5 separate regions of the Homo sapiens genome follow, and all the other regions are linked to region 4. Evidence: fine-mapped expression QTL. A gene starts in region 4. Each other region holds a variant in brackets. All regions are shown on one strand. Distances are from middle to middle. Region 1 overlaps NOD1 (nucleotide binding oligomerization domain containing 1). Region 2 has its middle 16 kb from the start of GGCT. Region 3 has its middle 7.2 kb from the start of GARS1-DT. Region 4 holds the start of GARS1-DT (GARS1 divergent transcript). Region 5 overlaps CRHR2 (corticotropin releasing hormone receptor 2).

What was found. PIP is the estimated chance that this variant, and not a neighbour inherited with it, causes the effect. A credible set is the group of variants that fine-mapping cannot tell apart.
Region 1: its variant is the best candidate, but not a certain one, in a credible set for the expression of GARS1-DT in whole blood (INTERVAL, PIP 0.53).
Region 2: its variant is the best candidate, but not a certain one, in a credible set for the expression of GARS1-DT in whole blood (TOPMed, PIP 0.52).
Region 3: its variant is the best candidate, but not a certain one, in a credible set for the expression of GARS1-DT in prefrontal cortex (BrainSeq, PIP 0.50).
Region 5: its variant is the best candidate, but not a certain one, in a credible set for the expression of GARS1-DT in whole blood (TOPMed, PIP 0.56).

Annotation. Positions count from the first base shown.
Region 1 is chr7:30,448,026-30,453,129 of GRCh38, reverse strand. NOD1 (nucleotide binding oligomerization domain containing 1) reads left to right here. Exons shown (of 14, transcript NM_006092.4): 6 at 90-1,914; 7 at 4,749-4,832. Among named protein-coding and RNA genes, the nearest start is that of NOD1, 28 kb to the left of the region's middle. RefSeq lists an enhancer at 3,104-3,604. The variant A/G (reference allele first, on the strand shown) is at 2,709.
Region 2 is chr7:30,518,777-30,523,880 of GRCh38, reverse strand. It overlaps the pseudogene LOC100287825. Among named protein-coding and RNA genes, the nearest start is that of GGCT, 16 kb to the right of the region's middle. The variant G/T (reference allele first, on the strand shown) is at 1,974.
Region 3 is chr7:30,582,394-30,587,497 of GRCh38, reverse strand. No RefSeq gene overlaps it. Among named protein-coding and RNA genes, the nearest start is that of GARS1-DT, 7.2 kb to the right of the region's middle. The variant T/C (reference allele first, on the strand shown) is at 1,953.
Region 4 is chr7:30,575,454-30,580,557 of GRCh38, reverse strand. GARS1-DT (GARS1 divergent transcript) reads left to right here and starts at 2,779. Exons shown (of 7, transcript NR_038889.1): 1 at 2,779-2,909; 2 at 3,848-3,994.
Region 5 is chr7:30,654,394-30,659,497 of GRCh38, reverse strand. It overlaps CRHR2 (corticotropin releasing hormone receptor 2), which reads left to right. Exons shown (of 12, transcript NM_001883.5): 9 at 3,486-3,571; 10 at 3,783-3,918; 11 at 4,418-4,459. It overlaps LOC124901609 (a long non-coding RNA gene), which reads right to left. Exons shown (of 2, transcript XR_007060276.1): 2 at 1-5,104. Among named protein-coding and RNA genes, the nearest start is that of CRHR2, 26 kb to the left of the region's middle. RefSeq lists an enhancer at 3,570-4,769. The variant C/T (reference allele first, on the strand shown) is at 1,907.

The DNA.
Region 1 (5,104 bases), 130 kb after region 4:
CGCCTCTCCTCTTTGAGACCTCCCTGTTTGATGCTGTTTCTGCCTCTCTCCTCACCCTGCTGCTGTGCCCTGCCACCCCCTCCCTCCAGTGAGCAGGTATACCCAGCAGCTGCGACACCATCTGGGCCGTGACTCCAAGTTCGTGCTGTGCTATGCCCAGAAGGAGGAGCTGCTGCTGGAGGAGATCTACATGGACACCATCATGGAGCTGGTTGGCTTCAGCAATGAGAGCCTGGGCAGCCTGAACAGCCTGGCCTGCCTCCTGGACCACACCACCGGCATCCTCAATGAGCAGGGTGAGACCATCTTCATCCTGGGTGATGCTGGGGTGGGCAAGTCCATGCTGCTACAGCGGCTGCAGAGCCTCTGGGCCACGGGCCGGCTAGACGCAGGGGTCAAATTCTTCTTCCACTTTCGCTGCCGCATGTTCAGCTGCTTCAAGGAAAGTGACAGGCTGTGTCTGCAGGACCTGCTCTTCAAGCACTACTGCTACCCAGAGCGGGACCCCGAGGAGGTGTTTGCCTTCCTGCTGCGCTTCCCCCACGTGGCCCTCTTCACCTTCGATGGCCTGGACGAGCTGCACTCGGACTTGGACCTGAGCCGCGTGCCTGACAGCTCCTGCCCCTGGGAGCCTGCCCACCCCCTGGTCTTGCTGGCCAACCTGCTCAGTGGGAAGCTGCTCAAGGGGGCTAGCAAGCTGCTCACAGCCCGCACAGGCATCGAGGTCCCGCGCCAGTTCCTGCGGAAGAAGGTGCTTCTCCGGGGCTTCTCCCCCAGCCACCTGCGCGCCTATGCCAGGAGGATGTTCCCCGAGCGGGCCCTGCAGGACCGCCTGCTGAGCCAGCTGGAGGCCAACCCCAACCTCTGCAGCCTGTGCTCTGTGCCCCTCTTCTGCTGGATCATCTTCCGGTGCTTCCAGCACTTCCGTGCTGCCTTTGAAGGCTCACCACAGCTGCCCGACTGCACGATGACCCTGACAGATGTCTTCCTCCTGGTCACTGAGGTCCATCTGAACAGGATGCAGCCCAGCAGCCTGGTGCAGCGGAACACACGCAGCCCAGTGGAGACCCTCCACGCCGGCCGGGACACTCTGTGCTCGCTGGGGCAGGTGGCCCACCGGGGCATGGAGAAGAGCCTCTTTGTCTTCACCCAGGAGGAGGTGCAGGCCTCCGGGCTGCAGGAGAGAGACATGCAGCTGGGCTTCCTGCGGGCTTTGCCGGAGCTGGGCCCCGGGGGTGACCAGCAGTCCTATGAGTTTTTCCACCTCACCCTCCAGGCCTTCTTTACAGCCTTCTTCCTCGTGCTGGACGACAGGGTGGGCACTCAGGAGCTGCTCAGGTTCTTCCAGGAGTGGATGCCCCCTGCGGGGGCAGCGACCACGTCCTGCTATCCTCCCTTCCTCCCGTTCCAGTGCCTGCAGGGCAGTGGTCCGGCGCGGGAAGACCTCTTCAAGAACAAGGATCACTTCCAGTTCACCAACCTCTTCCTGTGCGGGCTGTTGTCCAAAGCCAAACAGAAACTCCTGCGGCATCTGGTGCCCGCGGCAGCCCTGAGGAGAAAGCGCAAGGCCCTGTGGGCACACCTGTTTTCCAGCCTGCGGGGCTACCTGAAGAGCCTGCCCCGCGTTCAGGTCGAAAGCTTCAACCAGGTGCAGGCCATGCCCACGTTCATCTGGATGCTGCGCTGCATCTACGAGACACAGAGCCAGAAGGTGGGGCAGCTGGCGGCCAGGGGCATCTGCGCCAACTACCTCAAGCTGACCTACTGCAACGCCTGCTCGGCCGACTGCAGCGCCCTCTCCTTCGTCCTGCATCACTTCCCCAAGCGGCTGGCCCTAGACCTAGACAACAACAATCTCAACGACTACGGCGTGCGGGAGCTGCAGCCCTGCTTCAGCCGCCTCACTGTTCTCAGGTGAGGCTGCCAGGCAAGGGGAGCAACAGGTGGGCCGGGCGGGCCAGGCTCGGAGGGCATCGGGAATGGCATCATGGACCAGGATCCCCCAGGACTCATGACCATGGCCCTTGGAATGTCCAGACCTTTTCTTTCTTAGCAGGGCAGAGGTCAAGGTGCAAAGCTTCGAGGCAGGTGGACCTGGATCAGCCACAGCTGGGTGCCCTTGAACAAAGTGCTTAACTCTCAGAGCCTCCACGCCCTCATCTGGAAAAAGAAGATGCTCATAATCCTATCAATTATGGCCACAGGGACCAATGTTAGTTGAGAATGGGTGAAGTGCATTACAAATATTACCTAATGGAATGCTCTTTACAACCCTGTAACTTAGGTACTGTTATTGTCTCTATTTTGGCAGATAAGGAAGTAGAGGCACAGAGAAGTTAATAGCTTGCTTTAGGTCACACAGCTCAGACATAGCAGTGCCAGAATGCATAAAGAACCTTCCTTTTAAGATTAATGTAAGGCTCCGAGATAGCCCTCAAAAAGTTTCTGGAATATGGGAGCTTTTATTACTGCAGAGAAAGCAGACCTTGTGCCAGTTGGCACTGGTGACTTTCTGTGATCAACGCTAGCAGCCCTTCACACTGCTAGAGACCTCAGTTAAAATGCTGACTCGTGGTTGTTTTCCTGTTCCATAGTTTACGGGAAACAGAGCCCAGTCTGTTTTCTTCTATTAGCATTTCCTATGTAAAATAAACCTTGTAAATCTCTACAGGGGGTTAAATTTGCCATTACTTGACTCATGCATTTCT[A/G]AAAAGCAGTAGGGATTTGGAACTGACTCCCAGTGCCTGTCACACCAGTGTCAGAGTGTAAATAATTGCATGGGGACATGGGGTGCAGGGGGTCGAAGGCTGCCCTAGCCTGGGAATTGGAAAACCTGGAGTCTGTTCTCTGTACTCTCAGCCAGTGACTCTCCCTCTGTAGCCCCAGGCAGTCTCACACTCAGTGCCACCCTCTGTCCATCTTTTTTTTTTCTCCCCCAAATGGAGTCCCGCTCTGTTGCCCAGGCTGGAGTGCAGTGGCGTGATCTCAGCTCACTGCAACCTCCGCCTCCTGGGTTCAAGCGATTCTCTTGCCCCAGCCTCCTGAGTAGCTGGGATTACAGGCACACGCCACCATGTCCGGCTAAGTTTTTTGTATTTTTAGTAGGACGGGGTTTCCCCATGTTGGCCAGGCTGGTCTTGAAATCCTGACCTCAGGTGATCCGCCCGCCTCGGCCTTCCAAAATGTTGGGGTTACAGGCATGAGCCGCCGCACCCGACCCCTCTGTCCATCTTTTCAATGGGAAACTCCACACCAGTGTGGTGGCCCTGCCCTTCCTGCTGTCCCCAGGTGAAGCTTTCCTTCACACCAGTGCAAGAAAAAACAGCTTGTAGGAAAGCAGAGGATATGGGTAACCACGGGAAGCACACTCAGTTCTCTGGCTGCATCAGTTAGGATTAGTTTTAGCTGAGAGCGAAAACCCCAAATGTTGGTGAGTTACAAGCTTATTTCTCTCATGTAAAAGTCTAGAGGTAGGTAGTTCAGGACTGGTATGGAGTCTCCATGACCCTCCGGAGCCCAGGCTCTCTTCTGCCTTCCTGTTCTGCCATCCTCACTACCCGGCTTTCCCATCTTGGCCCAAGAGGGCTGCTCAAACTCCAGCCATCTAGTCGACACTCTAGCTATCAGTAAGAAGGAAGGGCAAAGATTGAGAGCATGCCTCAATCTTTTAAGAACACTTCTTGGCTATTACTAATTATATTGCTGCTTAGATTTCAGAACTTAATGGTATGGGCAGAATTTAATGAGATGGGCCCAGCTAAAAGATGGGGGAATCTATTGCTAAGAAAGTATAGATATTGGGAATGTCTAGCAGCCTGTGCTGTCTTGGGCTGGCCATGCCATGTACATACACACTATTTCCCAGCACCAAGCTGGGGACTCTGAGGGAAAGGGTCCAGAGTGTCTGACTTGATCATTTTGATGTGGCCTAAAAATCAAGCTTTTAATTGTTCAGCCTTTTACTTGTTATCAAGGTCAGCTTGTGGGTCTAATTGGGCCCAAGGCTTGTGTTTCTAAGTAAAGTTTTATTGGAACGCAGCCATACCCATTTATTTACTTACTGGCTGCTTCACACTACACAGTTGAGTAGCTGTGACAGAGACCACATGGCCCACAGAGCCTAAAATATTTGCTGTCTGACACTTTACAGAATGACATGAGCAGTCTCCTTTGACAGTGGGACTCACAGCCTTTTCCAGTGACAAATCAGGGTTAGCCCATGTGTTTCTGGATGGGGGGAAGCTGTTGGCATTTTGGGTATAACAGTTCTTGTGAGACCTGTCCAGCATTTTGCAGGACACCTAACATCATTGGCCCTGCCTGCAAGATGACAGGGCACTCCCTCCTCCAGTCACAACCACTAAAAGCAGCCCCTGACATTTCCAAACCCATGCCCTCCACCATACGAGAACCAGGTACAGGGTCTGGCTGACACATAGGTCACACGCAAAGGGTGGATGTCAGAGGTGGCTGGCCTCACACGTCCTCCCTGTGTCCTTCACGGTCGTGTGAGGAGCCAGGGGCTGTGCTGCAGCCTCGCTCATGGGCTGGTGCAGGATGGGTCTGGCGGCCCCACGTTGGCCAGGCTTTGTAAGGGGCTATTTGGCTGATTGCTGTGGCCATTCTCCAGGGGCGTCTATACCTGAGAAAACTCCAGGGCCTGAAGGCTTCTGGATCTTTGTAAGATTAATGGTCCTTCATAATGAGTGCCTGCCCTGACTCGTAATTTTTTTGCTGTTTTATTTCAGACTCAGCGTAAACCAGATCACTGACGGTGGGGTAAAGGTGCTAAGCGAAGAGCTGACCAAATACAAAATTGTGACCTATTTGGGGTATGTCTTTCTCCAGAACACTGGGCCAACTACCTAGTAATAATACAGAGCTGCAGGGAATTCACATTCCCATAGGTCCCTGGATGATCGGCACGGATGGCCCAGGGCTGGGAAGAGCGCTGGCCCAGGAGTTGAGAGTCCTGGGTTCTCTTTGTGGCTCGGCCAGTCATGAAGTCTTGCTGAGCCTCAGCCTCCTCACCTGTAAAACTGGGATCCCAGTATAGGCAAGTAGGCTTACAACTGGTTATTGGGGGATGCAACGAGAATATAAG
Region 2 (5,104 bases), 57 kb after region 4:
TCTCTTATTACATCTGCATAATAGAGGTGGTATTGTTTGACTTCCATTTGTGAAGTTTAAATGAGATTTTTTTATTGTTGTTTTTATGTTAATCCCTAGTACATGGCCTGCTGTAAACACCCAGGACACCCAGGATATGGTCATTGCTCTTTGATTTTCCTCATCCCCAGTCTCAAGGGGAAGCCAGGACAATGAGAACAGCCACTTGCCATCAAGAGTCACTGAAAGGGCCTCAGGGTGGGATGGTGGGGGGATAAGAACCATGAGAGAAGTCGGCACAAAGGAGTTATGGGACAAAGCGTCCAAGATAGGCAGAAAAGAAAATGTAGCCAGTTGATGGGGAAGAAAGGAAGTCAGAGGGCTTAGACACTGAGGGGGACAGAACATCTCCATGTGCATTCTCATCTCTGGTAGTCAGCAACAGGTATCCACGGGGAGGGCCCTACATCATCTGCTACCCTGAAGGATCTGGAGGTAAGAGGCTCTGGGGAGAGGTGCAGTGACCCTGCAGGCCAGCCCTCCAACCTCCTCCCACAGTGGACACGGCATGCCCCTCTGCCAGCTGAGACAGCCCACACACACCCCAGCCTTAATGATTGTTCTCTCTACCTCTCCCCCACTCCTCCTCCACCTCCTCGTCTCTGCATGCACCTCAGAGCCCATGCCAAGAACTAGCAGTAGTCCTGGACCCGAGGTCCATAAAAATCAGTCAACTGAATAACACCATCAAATCTTTGGTAAGAGTCCAGTGGGGTCCCCTTATTCCACGCTGCCAATCCTGGGCTCCAGTTTCCCCTTGGGGCCCTGAGGAAAGGAGCTGGGGGCACCTGGTGCCAAGGACAAATAGGGAACTGGGGCGCCCAGGCCTCACCTAGAGGGACCCCAGAGCATGCAGTATGGCTCTTCTTTTGCTGCCCTCTTTGCCGACTCTCTCTTCTCCAGACACCCCTGGAGAGGGGTATAAACACCTTTGTTTTATCAACCCAAAGTGCCATTGATTTAAAGACACCTCTATTTGAGAAATGTTGGAAATCGTATGTCTTAGAATTGATCAAATACACCAGAATGTGAGCTGAAAAGAAAGCACCGGACTTAAAATTTAGGAAGTCACTGGTGATCTTACTTGGAGAAATCCATTTCAGTAGATTGGTAAGTGCAGCACTAGATGGCTGTGAGTTGGACAAATGGGAGGTGTGGCATTGTATGCAGCAGAGATGCATGGATGGTGTGCAGACCAGTATTGCAAAAAAATTGTGGTGATGGGAAGATGTGATAAAGCTCAAGATGTGGTACGATTTAAAGGAAGGTAATTTTTGTATGAGGACAACTTGAGCCTTTGTCAAGGCTAAGGAGAAGAAGCTGATGGAGAGACTAAAGGAGTATATGAGGCGCTGTGGAAATAGATTAGTGGAGGGGGCATAGATATGAAATTAGTCAGGGCTGGCCTTAAGTGTAACTTTTTAACTTATTAGCTGACGTTGGACATCTCACCTCTGTGAGCTCAGGAGGCTCACAATCTCCTGAGCTTTGGTCTCCTCAATTGTAAAAGTGAGTTAATCATTTCCCTACCTTATGGAACTGTTGTTTGTATTAAGTAATTTATCTACATAAAGTTCTTGGAACATTATGGTCAGGACATAGTAGATACTCAATAAATGGGGTCTACTATTATGAAGTAGATACTCAATAAATGGGATCTACTATTATGAGACTACGAGAGACAGCATAATTGATTAGCCACGTCCAGGTGGGAAGGGATGGGATCAAGCTCACAGGTTGAAGAATTCACCCTGAAAAGGAAGAGAAATCCCTCTGTGGTGGTTTGAAAAGATGTCCACAGATTCTTTGCTATCCCTTCCTTCAAAAGATAGGATCTAATTCCTCTCTTCTTGAGTGCAAGGGATGCTTAATGAATTACCTCTAAATAATAGAATGTGGTTGAAATGACAATGTTCAGCTTTTGAGAGTAAGTT[G/T]TAAAAGGCATGTGACTTACTCCATGCTTCTTCTCTTGGATCACACAATCTGGAGGAAGCCAGCTGACTTTTCACTTGAACACTCAAGCACTCTCTGGGGAGGTGCCGGGCAGTGAGGGACTGAGGCCTCCTGCCAACAGCCATGTGAGTACACCATCTTGGAAGTGAAGCCTCCACTCCTAGTCTAGCTTTCAGATGACTGCAGCCCCAGCTGATATCTTGTCTGCAACCTCATGAAAGACTCTGTACTAGAACCACTCAGCTAAGCAACCTCCAAATTCCTGACTCACAGAAACTATGAGATAACACATATTTGTTCTTTTAAGCTGCTAAGTTTTAGGGTAATTTGTTACAAAGGGTAACATATACAGATTTTCTCTGAGGCAGAAGGAAATCAGAGAATGACAGGTGAAAGATGAAAAGATAGAAAGGAAAAAAGATAAATGTTTCTGTAACATTAAAATATGAGGTATGTTGTCTGCTGACAATGAGGTGGCTTGGCAAGACTGCTAAGAGATTGGAACAGCCAGGCAGAAAACAGGAAAGGGAATTAACTTGGAACACAAATAAGATTGAGCCTACCTACCTTTATGCTAAACCCAACTACAGAAATCATTTTGCTAATGGAACCAGATCAGACTCCACATAATGAGTCTTTATCTCAATCGTGAAATTCAGAGGCTGGGGGCCTCTCTGAGCCTACCCCAGAGACCACCTTTGTGAGCAAACTGCTAATGAGTGAATTCAGGGATGAGGATGGCTCAGGCTTATCTTGAAAAGTACTCCCTGATGTCAAAATGATTTGCTACAGCTACATCAAGTCTAGCACATTATTTATGAATAGGGATAGACTACCAGAAGTATTGTAAGAGAATAATCAACAAGTCTTATGTAATCTGCAGCAAACATACTGCAGTAACAGGAAAATCCACTGTCTTTCAAATGACTCAAGTTTGCATTATTCCTTCCTGTTTGGACTGTCTCTCTCTCTCTCTCTCTCTCTCTCTCTCTCTCTCTCTCTCTCTCTCTCTCTCTCTCTCTCTCTCCTTCTCTCTCTCTCTTTCTCTCTCCCTTCCTTCCTGCCTCTCTCCACTCTGGCTGCTAGCAAGAGAGCCCTGGGAATTCTCTGTGATGTAGCCAGCCAACAGTTTTTAGGGTGGTGCTCCAGCACATAAAAGGGACCAGGCCAGGACTGCCATCTCCTAAAGTTAATTTAAAGAAACTAAGCCCTGGTTTTTGTAAACCCCACAGGTCAACCAGGAATTGAGTCACTGCATCTCCCTGCAGAATGACAAATCATGCTCTCCTTAGTAGCTTTACACCAGTTCTGTTTGCAAATTGGGGAACTGAAACATCACTGTAAAATTGGTGCCTTTTGTATCTTATACAATAGGGCTCATTCATTCATTCACCCTTTCATTCACTCAGCTGTTTATTTAGCAACTGATTATTGAGTGCCTCTTCCATGAGGGGACAGGCATGTACTAATTTTGGGAATAAAGAGATGTATATTGTGATCCTAAGGAGAAGCAAAATGTCCTGGCACATAGTAAGCACTCAATAAATATATATTGAATAAATAATAATTCCTGCTCTCTCTGGGCATCATAGTCTAGTAGGGGGAAGAGGCATGTAAACAAATAAAGTTGTTTTAGTACAATAGTAAAGGAATCGATCAAGTACTATACATGTAGAATACCATATCTACCTGGAAGTTAGGGATGATTTGATAGAAGAGGTAACATTTGCTTGATGTTGAAGAACAAATATGAGTTTTCCAGGAATGGAAAGTAGGAAAGGTCTTTGCAGGCAGACCAAAATTATTATACTCATAGGTCTTATTGTCCGCGGGATTGGTTTTGTCACTCCTGTCTAATCCTAACTTGCAAATATAAATATTTATCAATATTTCCCTGGATTTTAATTGTTTTTGTGTTTGTTTCCAAGACAGTGATAGGTGGTCAAAGTTAGATGCAAAATAACTCTACAAAAGAGATTATTTTTTACAAAGTAGATGACATTAATTCAAGAAAAAAAGTATTTTAAGTTTCTTCCTGAAAGAACCTTTTAATTTCTTGTATTTTCTAGGCCAGGTGGAAGATATTCTTCCTAAAAAATGGTCTTCAGATTACCTCTAAACCTTCCTCTTTGACACCTGGCTGAGAACCCAGAAAACACCCCCTGTTCCATAGCAGACCAGTGTTTACTGTTATTTGCCTCTTTAGAGCAGTTCAGAGGACCATCAGCTACCATACCCACTAAACGAAAATGGCAAAAGGACTTGTAATGGCCAAATGCAGCAATATAATTTGTTATTATCAATTCACTAGTGATTTGAAATATTGAGAAAATTCCCAATTGAATGACAGCATGGAAAATCACATTACATCAGGGAATAGTATTTTCTAGGCCACCAGATTTCTCTAAATTGGAATTTGGAAATAAATTTTATTTGCAGCAAGAAACATGTATTAATACTGACACTTACTAAAATGTTTTAATGAGTTAGAGCAAGCATTTTGTGTCAAGATACTACTGGTCTAACAAGGCCTGCCACTATTATTGATGCCCATTATGTACTTTTCCGTGAAGTTGTCTAACCTGTTCTATTAAACCCGTAAACTGCTTTGACAATCGTAAAAGAGACAAAAAGGAACAAAGTAAGAATGATGGGAAATAGAAAGCCAAGGCACCCAATTTTCTTCTAGTTTAATCAATAATTTGGGGCTCTATCACATTTGCTCTCAGCCTTACAGTCTGATCCTTATTTTTTGCCAGGCTGCAACCCTCACTGCATTTAATAGAGGTTGATGGATATTTTTATAGCCCTGCAGTTTCAAACTGATTATCAGGTGTTTAACCAGCAAAGCCATGCAATATTTGTATAAATCAATCCTGTAATGAAAGGTTATCACCCACAAACCCAGTCAGTGTCAAACCAGAACAAGGTAAAGATTTGGAATGCTTCCCTTTCTGGATAACACACTATTGCTTATCTTCAATTTTCTGGATAATTTAGGATTTTATTGAATATGATTCTTCAAGAACTGAACGATCATCCTAAACAAATCAAAGTCACTGTATCATCACAGAGCAGCATTTCCCACACTCTCAGTAAAACGCTGTCTACA
Region 3 (5,104 bases), 6.9 kb before region 4:
GGATGAGTCAGCCCAGCCTGTGGACCAGATGATCTGGCCTCATTAATCCTCTCTCATTGACTCTCCTTTCTGGCCTGTGACCCATTAATAATGTTTTGCCCCAACTTCCAGCCTCCCTTAGCAAAGATTTGTTTCAGCCTCTGTCGTCCAAAAACGAGGAGGTGAGGTCCCTCGAATTCTGTGGGACAGTGTCAATAGCTGAAGCAGTGCAATTTGTTGTAAGATTTAATTCTCTTTTGATTTTGCTGGTACAGAAGCATCAGGAGGGAAGAGGTTTGTTTCTCTTCCCTCCCTCCTTGATTCCCAGGGCATAGGTAAGGGAAAACTTTATCTTCTAATCTGTTAAAGTAGGGTTGGGTCGGGGGTAGGCATTCAGGGGCTTGGAGAGTGAGAAGCAGAAGTGGCCAGAGTGACAAGATTTTCTCTGAGGTGAAAGCCTGCAGAACCAAGGCCTGTGGATGCCAGAATAAATGGAGATGTGTTCACTGACTGTGACAGTGCCAGGGTCTCAGGGAGAAATGGTCTTGTGTTGCTCTGGCGGAGATTGGGTCCTAGCGATGGGATTCTGAACCTTTGAAAGGACTCCTGTGTTCCAGCTTGACACTGAGTGACCAAACTTTTGGCTTTTTTTTTTTTTTTTTTTTTGAGACGGAGTTTTGCTCTTGTTGCCCAGGCTGGAGTGCAATGGCACAATCTCAGCTCACCACAACCTCCCCCTCCCGGGTTCAAGTGATTCTCCTGCCTCAGCATCACTAGTAGCTGGAATTACAGGCACCTGCCACCATGCCTACAAAAATACCATGTATTTTTAGTAGAGACGGGGTTTCTCCATGTTGATCAGGCTGGTCTCGATCTCCCAACCTCAGGTGATCTGCCTGCCTCGGCCTCCCAAAGTGCTGGGATTACAGGTGTGAGCCAGCGCGCCCAGCCAACTTGTACTATTTCTAAGCTAATACAAGTCCATTTCACATAGATAACACATTACATTTCTACAGAAATCATTGTATTAAGCCTACTGAAATGCATCTTGCTGTTTTTTGAACTAAAGACCCATGTATAAGTGATAGTTCTTTCATATCAGTACATGAATCTGAGGAGACCCTAATTTTCAGTGGCCACAGGTCCTTAATCTGCTGTGCTTTTCCCTGGCAGTGCTCAACAGCTGGGAGCTGCCCCATGGAAAGGGACTACTGGCCTAATCCCAGACTGGGGTTTGACTAAAAGGTTGCGCCAGGAGGACAAAAGGGCAAGAGAGTAAGACCACCAGCAAGAGAATGACCAAAATGATAGACTTGGGCCATATTTTGGGCTAATTGTGCCCCCCAAAATATATATGTTGAAGCCCTAACCCCCAATGTATCAGTAGTTGGAGATGGGGCCTTTTGGGGGGTAATTAGGTTTAGATGAAGTTACAAAATAGAGCCCTCATGCTGGGATTAGTGCTCCTATAAGACATCAGGAAGTTTGCTCTCTCTTTCTGTCGTGTGAGGATACAGTGAGAAGGCAGCCATCTGCAAGCTAGGAAGAGGGCCCATGCCAGAACCTGACCATGCTGGCACTCTGATTTTGGATTTCTAGTCTCTAGAACTGTGAATAAGTACGTTTCTATTGCGTAAGCCACCCAGTCTATGGTATTTTATTATGGCAGCCTGAGCTGACTAATATAGGCTTCTAGATTGGAAGGGGAAGGAAGTAAAGAGAGAGAATTGATAGGGATAAAGAAGAGGCATCAAGAGACTTGGGGTATCTGCTACTGAAGACATCAGCTCTCTATGACAAAACAGCACAGCATGTTTGGAGTAAGAGAAAGCTGAAGTCTCAACAAACAAATAGATTCTTAATGTTCTATACCACCGGACAAACTGCAGCCCTTTTATACATATGGAGTACTTTCTGGGCCAGTCCTGTGGCCCCTTTCAAATGTATGGTGTTGAAACGTAGTAAGTTTATGT[T/C]TTTAAGGTCTGCCCCTCCCTTCTTGCATTATATCATAAACTCTTCTCTTTTTTTTTTTTTTTGAGACGGAGTCCCGCTCTGTCACGCAGGCTGCCAGGCTGGCGTACAGTGGCGCAATCTCAGCTCGCTGCAACCTCCACCTCCTGGGTTCAAGCGATTTTCTTGCCTCTGCCTCCTGAGTAGCTGGGATTACTGGCACACACCACCATGCACAGGTAATTTTTTTATATTTTTTAATAGAGACAGGGTGTTGGCCAGGCTGGTCTTGAAATCCTGACTTCAGTGATCTGCCCGTCTTGGCTTCCCGAAGTGCTGTGATTACAGCCATGAGCCACCGTGCCCGGCCAACTCTTCTCAGTTCTAAGTGTCCTAACACCCTTCATCTCCTGCTGACTGCAAGGCAGTTCTCAGGGAGGAGCCTGGATTGTGTCCATGTATAAAGAAAGACTCTGCTGCTGATGTGCAAAGGAATGTGGATGTGATAGTTTCCAGCCTGAAAGTCCCCCTCTTTTCATCTCCGCAGTATAGTTCTTAGAAACAACAAGCCTTGCTTTTACAGTGAGTCCATATCTAAAACTTTATCTGAACCCAAAATACCTGAGATAGGTCTCAGTCAATTTAGAGAGTTAATTTTGCTAAGATTAAGCATGTATCCAAGACAGCTTCAGGAGGTCTTGACAACGTGACAACATGTGTCCAAGGTGGTTGGGGCACAACTTGGTTTTATACATTTTAGGGAGATATGAGACATCAATCAATATATGTAAGATGTACATCAGTTTCGTCTGGAAAGATGGGACAACATGAAGCAGGGAGGGGGCTCCCTGGTGACAGGTACATTTGCATTCTTTTGAGTTTCTAATTAGCCTTTCACTGATACATACCTATGACCTGGGTTTCCAGGTCATAGGTACGACTGCATTCTTTTGAGTTTCTAATTAACCTTTCACTGAATACATAACTTACAGGAATAGTCACTTATGCCTTAGTCTGGCTTAGTGAAACAATAGGGAAAAGGAAGCAATTAGATATGCATTTATCTCACATGAGCAAAAGGATGACTTTGAGTTCTGTCTGTCTTTTGTCTACAGGGAATTTTCTTGTGGGCAAATTGTGAGGGAGGTATGTAGCTTTTTTATCTTTGTTGCTATCTTGTTTAGGAGTACAATGGGACGCAGGTTTGCCCCACAGTTCCCAGCTTGGCTTTTCCCTTTGGCTTAGTAATTTTGGAGTCCTGAGATTTATTTTCCTCTCACATCTCCCCGTTTTTCTTTTTAAAATCTTTCAGAGACAGCATTTTAGAAGAAAACAAGTCTCTGGTCTCAGGCTTTGTCTGATCTCTCATGGCTAGGATAGTTTATTCCTAGATGGATAAGTACCACGTTATTTGGAAAGCTCATTTTTAGTAGGTTATGAAGTCTCATGTCCTTTGAAGAGAAAATAGGGGGAGGAAGGAAGAAAAACAACAACAAACAAACAAAATGAAGAAGAATCCTGGAAAATCAATATAGGCCGTATTACTCTGAAGTCCATGTCAGTAGGCAGGTATGAAAGTGGTTTATGTGTGTAAATAGGTTGCTATTATTTTCTTCTGAAGTTTACATTGTCTAGCTTCAGTCTGTAGGGCTTTAAGAAAGACTGCTTAATTTTAAGTGATTTCAAATCAGGAAAAATGGGGTGGGGGGAAGTAAACGAAAGAAGAAAAAAATTGAAAACATTATTTTGGAGACTTGTAGCCAGGAAAAATTTTTGAATTCAATCTAAATTGTAGAAAATAAAAAAAACTGAAAAACATTAGGCAAGACTAGAATCTAATAACAGGTGTACTATAGTTTATGTTGAAATATAATTTTCCTCTCTCCAGTCTCATTTTCACTAAAGACAAGTCATAGGACAAATTCATTTGCAAAATAAGTTGTAGTCTTATTATACTTGGCTGGAGTATTTGCATAAAGTCAGAAGAATAATTATTTGCTATATAGGCTCCTCTTTTTTTTTAATTGGCTTTGCTAGAACTTTATTCCACTAAGAATCTCAGATTTAACTTTAATGCATTAAGCCTGGCCTGTGCCTGCAAATCCTTGCGTTAGTTGAGTGAATTCCTCACTTCAAGGTCCCAAGAAAACTTGGGGCTCCTGGGCCTGTCAGAAAGTGACATTCTTTACTCACTACAGGTCACCCTGTTCCGGGACTGTGCAGACAAGGTATGAGACCAGGTTTCTCAAGGAGTTTTTATTGGCTCTAAAGTCAACTTTCATTCTTTAAAGGAGTCTGTTTGTATCTGAAAGCATCCTATTCCAGTCAAAACCTTGGTAAAATAACCAGTGTCTCCAATTGTGCCCTGTTACAAAGGAACATTCTTGAGAAAGAATCTTTCTCAGAGGAAAGATTCTTATTGCATGTATGCAAATAACTATATTGCCATAAGTTAAGAATACTCACAACTAGTTTCTAAATTTTGGAGAAATCAGGTAGAGAGAAATATGCTCCAAATTTTGTTTACAGAAATATACTTTACTCCATTGTTAAAAGCTATAAATAGCTCAAAAGAAAAGTTTTCTTGGCTCTGAAAAACAAAGGGTCAGCAATGTTTTAGGCAAAAAGTCATAAAAGGACTATTTCAGTTTTCTATTAGTTCAGTCCATGCAGTTAACTTCTTTTCTGCTTGATATTCATGAACATTTCAGCTCTCCACTGGAGTCTTGGAAGTTTTTCCTCTATTCTAGTGTCACAGTCTCCAAAGTTATTAGAAGCCTGCATTCAAGAGCACCTGTCAGAGTCCCACAGCTGATTATAAAACCACCTTTTGAATAGGATAAAAGTAAAACAACTGTGGATAACAAAAGTCTTAGAACAGTCATAAAGACACAATTGACAAAGATATTTGGTTACTTCTGTGGCATACAACAATTTTACATAATTATAATTACCACAATTACATAATAATAATAATTACCACTGATAACATATGCCAAGTCATATCAGAATCACAGGAATTTCATACAATTCTCAAACATATACCAATAACATATGTGCATAAATATAATCCAAAGAAGATTAAACATTGTTTTATACTTGACAATACTTCCTGTATGATTTTATTATATCAAATAAACCAAATATGTCTCTTTTGGACTTCAGGGGACTAATA
Region 4 (5,104 bases):
TGAGACCAAGAACCCATAGGCAGGAACCAATTCTGGACACAGTTAGACATAGGAAGAGTGTTTCCTGGGTCGTAAGTGAAAATTTTTTATTTCATAGAACAATTTAAAGCCAAAAGCACAGAATATTATGTTGGAAGGAAACATTTCCTTTAGACCTTTAAGAGAAAACATTTTTAGCATCAGACCACAACAGAACCCGAAAAAAAAGAAGCTTACAGAAGCTGAAAATGAGTTGAAGAATAGAGTGATTATTTCAGGCACTTTAAAAGGGGAGAAAAAGCTGAAAACAGTGAGATGCAATACAAGTTGAAATTTACTTAAAAAATTATAATGTCTTTTATCAATTTTAATTTTATTAAGAATGAAGCAATACTTCAAGAAAATTCCATTGTTCTAACCAATTTTTTTTTTTTTTTTTTGTGTGTGACAGAGTCTCACTCTGTCACCCAAGCTGGAGTGCAGTGGTACAATCTCAGCTCACTGCAAACTCCGCCTCCTGGGTTCAAGCAACTCTCTGCCTCAGCCTCCCGAGTAGCTGGGATTACAGGCGTCTGCCACCACGCCTGGCTAATTTTTGTATTTTTAGTAGAGACGGGGTTTCACCATCTTGGCCAGGCTGGTCTTGAACCTGTGACCATGTGAGCCACCTGCCTTGGCCTCCCAAAGTGCTAAGATTCTTCAGTATATAAATGGTTTTTAGAAAATACCAAAACCCAATTCCTAGAAAGACCATTAAAAATAATTTCCCTTTAATTATAGACAACTTGATTATCTAAAAGCTTTTTTTTCCATAAATCCGCTTATGATTTACTCCAGACCATTCATGACATGCTTGTGAGGTAGAAGAATAGGGTCTGGAGGCAGGGAATCTAAGGCCAATTTGCCCTGACTTCCTAGAACTGAATCACAAGGAAAACCCCACCTCTCCACACCCAAGTAACAAAAGTATCAGAGGCTACTGTCTTTGCACTGCCTCACAGATAAAAATGGAAAGTACCTCTGATTGGTCCCCTCCCACAACCAATCAGACTTGTCGTGGGCCACTCCTTCACTTACATAGGGTATAACCAAGTAACCAATGGAAAACTTCTAGAGGGTATTTAAACTCCAGGAAATTCTGTAACCGGCCTCTTGAGCTCCTTGCTGGAGCCCAATCCCAGTCTGTGGAGTGTACTTTCATTTAAATAAATCTGTGCGTTCTTTGCTTCATTCTTTCATTGCTTGGTTTGTGCATTTTGTCCAGTTCCTTGTTCAAAATGCCAAGAACCTGGATGACTCATAGTCAAGACCCTCCACCAGTAACATATATTGGCGAGCCAGCCAGGAGGTAAGCCCAAAGTTTGGGATTTATTTTTCTTCTCTTGATTTCCCTTTTCCTCTCTGCTCCTTACAGGGGAACTCTTTTCTCTGTCTCTTTTTCCCTTTCCAGCTTGGAACCCTCGGTGGACAGTGCCTAAGCACAGAGGCAACCACAGGTTTCTAACAGGGCCACTCTCTGGTGAAACTGAAAGGTTTCTGTGTGAAAGTGCCTGACCACCACTGCCCAATTCAGGTGAGGGACCTGAGTCCTTTTCCTTTTTTCAGTCTTTCAGTGGCCGTTTCCTAGTAGCTTCTTGGTAATTGAGGGAAACTGGCCGGGACCACTCTCTACTGTTACCTGAAGGCCAAGGAGTGAACCTGGGATAGCTCTCCTGCCCAGAAGGCGGAAGGACTCTTTTGTATCTTTTTGAGTTATAGTCCCTGATCCCTACCTGTGATGCAATTGGCAGCAGAAGCTCGTCCAGGGTGAACTCACACACATTTCAGGCGACTTAAACCCTCTTTCTTAAGCTAAATTCTCCCATAAAGTTGGCCTGTAAGGACAAAAGATAATATCTCTTAGATATTTTGACCTCCCTTCTCCTACTGAATCTATTGACTGGCTGAGGACCTTTGGGACCCACAAGCTTTAGAACACATTCTACATCTTGGACCTCCACTTAAGGGAGCTTGGTGGTCATTGCTTTGGCATCAGTTTGCTTGCCCTGAACCCCGTAGAAATTCTATATATCTTTTATATACCCAATATAAACCCAATCTTTTATATAACCTCTGCACCATTTCTTCATGGGGAATATCCCACTAGCCTTGGTACCGTTAACTCTGCAGTGTTCGGGAACCTCCTTAGTCTTGCAAGGAATGCAGGAAGATATGGCCTATCTAAATTGGTAGGAAGCTAGAAGCTGAGACCTTCATCCAGGGACAAGAGAAAAGCTCATATTAGGCCATTGCCTCTGGAGGGAAAACATACAAAGCAACACTGGTGCCCACCTAAGGTCAGAGATGTCTGACACTTTTAGACTGGACCTCAAAGGGGGATGCCTAGGGGATCCAACTCCAGACCTCAGCCTCTCCAAAGGGGATGCCCTAGGCAAAGGTTCTCAGGTCTAGTACTAAGGCCTCCTTAGAATTGTCTCTCTCTTGCAGACCACTACAGGAAACACTCCATTTATTCCACCTGACTTCCCACTTGGCTGCATCCTCAACCATTGAAATGAATTTGACCCTGATAATCTAAGGAGGAAACATTTGATATTCTTTTGCAATAATACTTGGCCCCAGTATTGTTTGGAATCTGGAGTTTGCTGTTGAATGGGAAAGCAGGATGACGTTGCATGTATCCAGGCTTTGGTGCTGCTGTCCTAAGAAGGGTCAGGCCTAGTCAGCATATGGTGCTCTCCTTTGGTGCTATTTGGCTCCAGTGTCTTTGGAGTCTGAGGAGGTTTGGCCTTTAAAAATCAAACTGCCACCGGAACTGCTTTAAAAATGTTTGGTTCACAGCCTTCACTGGATTACCTATTGGAGCAAACAAAGTGTAACCATGTAAAACCTGTGAGCTTGTATTGATATCTCATGGCTAGAGTTCCAAGGTAAAAGCTATTGGATCTTCGTTTGTGTGTGTGTATACATGTCTAGATGTGTTTATTTGTATGTACACTTATTGTTATATGTTGTGTCAACCAAATCAGCTTATAAATAAAAAAGCACTCATAAATTAAATAAATAAGTCCAAGCAATTTTCAAGTTCATGTGACTTAAGTAAATCTTCATTAAATAGCTGGCTTTAAAATTATTGGTAAAATGAAAATAGAAATATCTTCAGAATTGTCAGCATACATTTTTGTCTGGGTTTTATATTTGTCTTTGCTAGAAATGTTGAAGTGTCAGCATTTGGCATAGAAGATTATAAAGCTATTAACCCAGCCAAAACAAAATGGCCTTAGTTTATGTGGCTTCTTTGACAAATGAGACTAATTTAATATTGTTAGCTAAATCTTCTGGGTTATTGGCAAAAACACCTATGTATTTAACTGTGAGGTTCTTATTTAGGTGAACACATAATGTTCATTGGCTATTAAAAATGGTTAACAAATAAATAACTAACTTTAAATGATGGTGTCTAATATCTCAGTTTTCAGAAGTAATCTAGATAAACTGTTAAAAATGAAAGACTTAAGTACATGTAAATGGGATGAATGATTAGGTAAATTTTGTGTAATTTAAAATCTTAAAAGTATTTTTGATGCCCATTGGATATCTCAGTCATTTCCAATTAAGAAAGGGTTATGATAGGGAGGAATATGTTTCCAAAAATTGTGGAATTATTCTCATCTATAAAATGCTAATATCTGATAGTTTAGGATTTTTTGCTTCCTAAGGTTTCACTAAAATTTAAGGTTACTAAGATGATATGGTTTGGCTTTGCATCCCCACCCAAATCTCTTCTTATAACTCCCATAATTACCGTGTGTTGTGGGGAGGGATCCAGTGGGTGAGAGATGATTGAATTATGCTGTTCTCATGATAGCGAATGGGTCTCATGAGATCTGATGGTTTTGAAAATGGGAGTTGCCCTGCACAAGCTCTCCTTTTGCCTGCTGCCATCCACATAAGATGTGATTTGCTCTTCCTTGCCTTCCACCATGATTGTGAGGCCTTCCCAGCATGTGGAAATGTAAGTCCAATAAACCTCTTTCTTTTGTAAATTGCCCAGTCTTAAGTATGTCTTTATCAGCAGCATGAAAACAGACTAATACATAAGGATATGAATTATAGTTAATATATAATTCTGTATACAAAATATGCCAAAAAATGTGTTATTGGTGAGAAAGAATTATTTTGTGTAGTTTGGAGGTTATCTGAAAGTTAATTCAAATTATGGACTTTAAAAAAAAGAGTTATTTATGAAACAAGGTAGTAAGGAACCAGTAAGTAGGGGAGAGATGTGAAGAAAGTTATATATATGAAGATATGTTTTTGTGAGGGAAGATTGTAGAGATGGTGGCTTTGTAGGAGAAAAGATCTTGTACGATAAATTCTTGTCCTAACGTAAAATGACTGGTTGTTTAAAAAGAAAGATGTTTAGGAAAACTCAGAAAGTCCAAGCATTTTGTAGATGGTCTGGGTAAGTTATGAAAAGAATTCATGTAAGAAAAGGATAATGTACCTTTGGTAAAAAGCATGGGAATGTGGATTTCTTGCCTAAGTTTAGAGGGTGAAAGGATGGTTTTAAGTGAGATAGGAATAATCTAAAAGGTTTGAACAAGTTGTGGAAGGCTTATGAAAAATTAATTGTAAAAGAGATTCTGTGTGTGAACATATTGGCTAAAGTTAAAGGGGAAGACTGGCAATTAGACTTCACCCATATGCCAGTGTGCAAAGTATACAAGTTTTTGGTAGTAGTAATAGATACTTTTACTGGCTGGGTTGAAGCTTGCTCTATGAGAACAAAGAAGGCTCATGAAGTTGCTAAGCTTCTTTTAAAGGAAATAAATCCCCTAGTTTGGGTTACCCCAAAGCCTCTAAAGTGATAAAGACCCATCTTTTAGAACTCAAGGGGCTGCTAAGGCTCTCAGAATCAAAAATTATTTACATGGGAAAGTAGAAAGGGCTAATCAAGCTCTTAAAATGGGTGTTAGCTAAGCTATGTTAGAAAACATCAGAAATTTGGGTCAGCTTATTGCCTGTAGCCCTCTTAAGAACCCTTAATTCTCCTAGAGCAAAAATTAATATGAGCTCATATGAAATGTTATACAGAAGGCCATTTTTTTTTGAGATGGAGTTT
Region 5 (5,104 bases), 79 kb before region 4:
CCTCAGTGTGTATGGAAACCCCATGAGATCCTTTCCCTCCCAACCAGCTGCCAAGGGCCATCCTGGAGGAATAAGGCTTTTGATGAGCCTGGAACTGAGCCAAGGAAGGCTGGCCTGGATGGGGGACCAATGGTGGCAAAGAGTAAGCCCCAACTGTAAAGATGTTGGAAGGGTGGTGAGGAAATGCCAAGAGAAAGGGAGGCGAGGAACGCAAGAGCTCAGTGTCAAGACCCAGCTCCATGCTTCCTCTTCCAGACCCATTCTCTGGCTCCACCCCTGCGTCTGTGCTCACGAGCCCTTTCCTTCTTTCCTTTGGGCCCAGCTCTTTGCACCAACAGGGGCTTCCACATTCCAAGCTGAGCCCTTCCAGAAGCTCTATCTACATTATTTCCAACCCTTGCATGCTCAAGTCCTAAAAGAAGTAGGGTTATGCTCTCCATTTTACAGAGGAAGAAGCTGAGAGAGATGAAGTGGCTTGCCCAAGGTCACCACTAATAGCTAGCAGAGCAGAGGCTCAAAGGCAGGTCTCCTGCTTTGTCCCCACCATCTGCCTGTTGTCCTCGAGGTTGGACACGTGTTTGGTGTTCCTGCCATCCCTACACTCCCCAGCAGCTCACAGCTGCATTTCTGCTGCTAAGAGACACTCACTTATTTCTGGTTCTGAGAAGTGAATCAGGTGGTTGAATTTGCAGGAAGCCTGACTTCTTGCTGGTGTTGTCATTGTTGGTGTCATGGGAAAGGATTGGCAGTCACTAGGCCAGACACAGGTCTTAGTGGTCTCTGTGACTATTTCAGCCCATGCTGATCTTCTAAGGCAAGCTCTGTGGTTAGGCCCCTCGGGGGCAGACAAGGAAGCAGGAGCTCATGAGGTTAAGCAACTTACCCAAGGCCACACAACTGCAAATTGGAACAGTCAAAATTTGAGCCATGAGACTAGGACTTGGTGCTTCAGTTCATTTGGGAGGGGGGCCTCATCTTCAGTTCTTAGCCCATCTGCCATTTCTCCAGGTCTTTTTGACACCTTAGGAAAGATGTCATCTCCCCCACCCCCAACCCCTCCAGGCCCCCAGCTAGGCCACAAGCCCTCTGCAAGCAGGGGCTGTGACTGCCTGTCCACTTCGCCATCGCTGATGCCTGGCTCAGAGCCTGACACATGGTCCATTGATTCATTGAATGAATGAACAATTAAATAAAACCAGAAACAGGCTGAACGAGGGCAGGGTACAATAGACAGTTCTTACTAAAGAACTGGAGTGTGTTTTTAGCAGGGAGGTAGAGTCCAAGAATGGAAAGCCGGAGAGCTCAGTGTGGGCAGGGTGACCAGAAGGCTCCCTGGAGAGAGAGGAAGGTACCTGTGGTGGTGTGAAGGGGGAGGCTGGGAAACAGGCTCAAAGGAAAGAAGGATTTTCAGGTTACATAGACCCAAGCTGAGATGAGTGGGGCCACATAACTAAATGTCTGCCAAGTGTAAGGATGGAGACAAGGCCTTGGTTGCTAGGTAGATGAATGGATAGACGGATGGGCCAGTGGATGGGCAGATAAAAGAGTAGGTGGATAACTGAATGGATTGGTTATTGGGTAGGTAGATGGATGGGTAGATGGATGGGTACGTGGATGGATAGATAAAACAGTAGGTGGATAATTGAATGAATTGGTTGTTGGGTAGATGGATGGATGGATGGAAGGAAGGAAGGATGAATGGATGAATGGCTGGATGGATGGATGGATGGACGGATGGATAAAAGTAGGTGGGTAAATGAATGAACTGGTTGGTAGGTAAGTGGATAGATGGATAGATGAATAAAGTGGGTGGATAATTGAATTGATTAGTGGGTTGATGGATGTTGGAAGATTAATATTGAATTCAAGAAAATGTGGCAGAAATGAGAATATATTTTGATTCCAA[C/T]AGTTTCTACTCTCAGGGAAGTCCGGAAGAATCAGAAAAGGTCAAATACTTTGTATTACTTGTATGAGAAAATTAGGATTCACTTATATGTTAAGGTGACTTGTGTCCCATGATCCAGGGGAATATGCCAGAGACCCAGGAGCTGGAAATTAGGTGAGCCCTAGGAGAAAGCTGGGGGTATCAGGTCATGGCAGCCCCGCTGAAGGCTTTCCATCCCCAGCCCTCCCTGGGACCCCCAGGCCATACCACTATGTGGTAAGAGAGCAGTAGACAGTGGCTGAGGTGGGGTGTGAGCTCTCCCTGCCCCTAGGGCTACCCGAAAGCTTGTGGGGAGCATCCAGAGGCTACAGGTTGACAGTCTCAGGATATCTGTCTGTATCCTGTGTCCCTCCTCTCCCAGCCAGGATTCAGAACTTGGGAGGGTTAGAAGGGCCCAGCCCAAGCTTAAGAAGCAATGGATTTTCTTGACAGAGTGTCAGAGGTGTGTGTGTGTGTGTGTGTGTGTGTGAGTGGGTGTGTGCACACGAGCCAGCAGACACCCCTGGGCTAACATGTGTCTCCCTCTGGCCCACGAGCACTTTGTCAGGAAACAGCCCCACTGTGTCAGGCCGACACACACTCCCTTGCCTGCCTGCCTGCCTATGCTCGGAGGCAGGTGAAGAGAAACGCAGATGTGCCCGGGCCCCAGATCCATGCTCACACATGCACACGCTCTGTGAGGCAAACACACTTGCACAAGTGCTTAAAGGATAGACCCACAGACCCACACTGCAGCTCCCAGGGGACAACACAGTCATAGTCACAGCCAATACAGATGAACAGACACTCGCAGGCCCATGGGGACCCACACCCAGCAGGGAGCAGCTGGGGAGCCACACAGGCCAGTTCCAGGGCCAGGTGCTGGGTGGGGAGGCTCTGGTGCTGAGGGAAAACTCAGAATGAAGATAAATGAGGCCCTTCCTGGGGCCTCAGAGCCAGCCCCACAGCCCATCCATCTTCCCTGTCTAGGGTGCCTACGAAGGCTCTGGAGTTCCTGGGCACAGGGGTGGGATGCTGGCAGATTAATCACTCATTCGGCAACTGAGTTCTTAATCCCTCCATCTGGCCTTGTCCGCCCCACCATGGCAGTGCTGTCCTCAGTCAGAAGGACCTCAGGCCGACCTAGAGCCAGTGACAGTGCAAGGGACTCAGAGAGCCCCGCAGTCAACAAGTAGGGACCCCGTGGCAGTGAGGGGAAGGGGGCTCCCATAGGGTCCCTATACTGGGGAGAGGGTTGGGGGCTTTCTCAGCCTCAGAGGGCATGCCCCGTGCTCTCGGTCACGACCCACAGAGGCTGCCACCTTTCCTCCTCAGTCCTGGGCTGGAGACACAGGCCCTGGAAAATGGGGCTGTCTCCCCATCCTGGCGAGGGAGGAGCACAGGCCTTGGGATGCTGGCAGGTGCTAGGGGGACAGGTAGGATAGGTGTGTGCGTGGGACATCGGTTTCCAGGGGTCTGCGGGGAAGGGGGCTGCCTCTCGGCTCATCTCAAACACGTGCTCCTTCCTTTTCCCTCTTTCCCATGCCCGCCCTCCCTCCAGATCAATTTCGTATTTCTGTTCAACATCGTCAGGATCCTAATGACAAAGTTACGCGCGTCCACCACATCCGAGACAATCCAGTACAGGTATGTGAGGGGGTCCCTTGACCCCACAATGGGGACAGGAGGAGGTCATCGGGCCGTCCCCCTGCTTCCTGGCAGAGCCCTCTGCCCCAGGCCTCACCCAGGGAGCTCGCTCAAGCTCCCGGAAGAAACACCACCACTGTCTCCCGCCGCCCACTGGGTGAGGCCCTGCCTGCCGCATGGGCTCAGACCTGTGTCCACCTCTCGCCCCCAGGAAGGCAGTGAAGGCCACCCTGGTGCTCCTGCCCCTCCTGGGCATCACCTACATGCTCTTCTTCGTCAATCCCGGGGAGGACGACCTGTCACAGATCATGTTCATCTATTTCAACTCCTTCCTGCAGTCGTTCCAGGTGGGGCCTGTGACCAGATGGGGGCCCCACAGTGAGCTTTCCTGAGGCTGCTCTGGCAGCCATGCCCTCACTAAGGGGGTCCCGTGGGACTGGCACACCCATGGCTCAGTTACATCCACAGAGTTAGAAGCCCGTACATGCTCAGCCTGAGCCTGGCCAGTTATCCCCATCCCAGCCTGGGTCTTCATCCTACCAGCCCGCACCTACTGTCCCAGCACCTGTTCTGAGGATGCAGGCAGCCCAACCAAATGCCCTGGGACAGGTCACACAATATTGAGGAGACCGGAGTCTGCCTGGCTCCAGGCCTGTGACCACTGCTCACTCAGAGTGGACCGTGGAATATCTGCACCCTGAGGCTAGGACCCCACCCAGCTCTGACTCCAGGGGTTCCTGGGTCAAATTGTCCCCCCCCCACCATCTTGTCCCCAGTGCCACCCCACCAGGCAGAACAGCTCCGCAGGTAGGTCACTGACCACTCCCTCCTTTCCCTCCTTTCCAGGGTTTCTTCGTGTCTGTCTTCTACTGCTTCTTCAATGGAGAGGTATGAAGCTGGGCCCTCGGGGTGGCCTGGGATATCCAGGTCCTCAGACCCCACTCCAGGGCAGCTCCATTGGTGCTGCCCGGCCTTGCTGGAGTGCCAGGGAGAGGAAGCCTTGAGATACCACCCGGCCTTAGGGGAACAGGAATCCTTCTCACAGGGGCTGGAGCCAGTTTAGAAGGTCAACTATGCAGCCCCGAAATAACATGCCAGCACCCCACATGTGCACTCAGAGCTGGGTGAGCAAGGAAGCCCAGGCCGCAGGGCCTCATGGAAGAGAGAAGCCAGAGCAGAGGTGGTGACAGAAGGAAGCTTCCAGAAAGAGATGTGTGCCAAGCAATCAGGTCTGTATGGACTCAGGGAGCAGAAGAGAGACCAGCACATTCCCCCGCTACCTGCCACAGAAAAGCCCACACACCAAGAGCAGGCTCTGGGGAGTCAGGCGGCCGTGAAGCTTGGCATGTGCAAGCCAATCATGAGGCCCAAAGCCCCAGTGCAGCTGACGCAGGGAAGAAGCGCACTCGTACCTGGGCTGGGGTGGATGAGGACATGGAGCAAAGAGCAGACACAGCCCCTAGGGCCTGGGAGCTTCCGAACACTCCAGAGGAATACACTTGCCTGTCTCTGCACAGGGCACTGGCGAGGTGT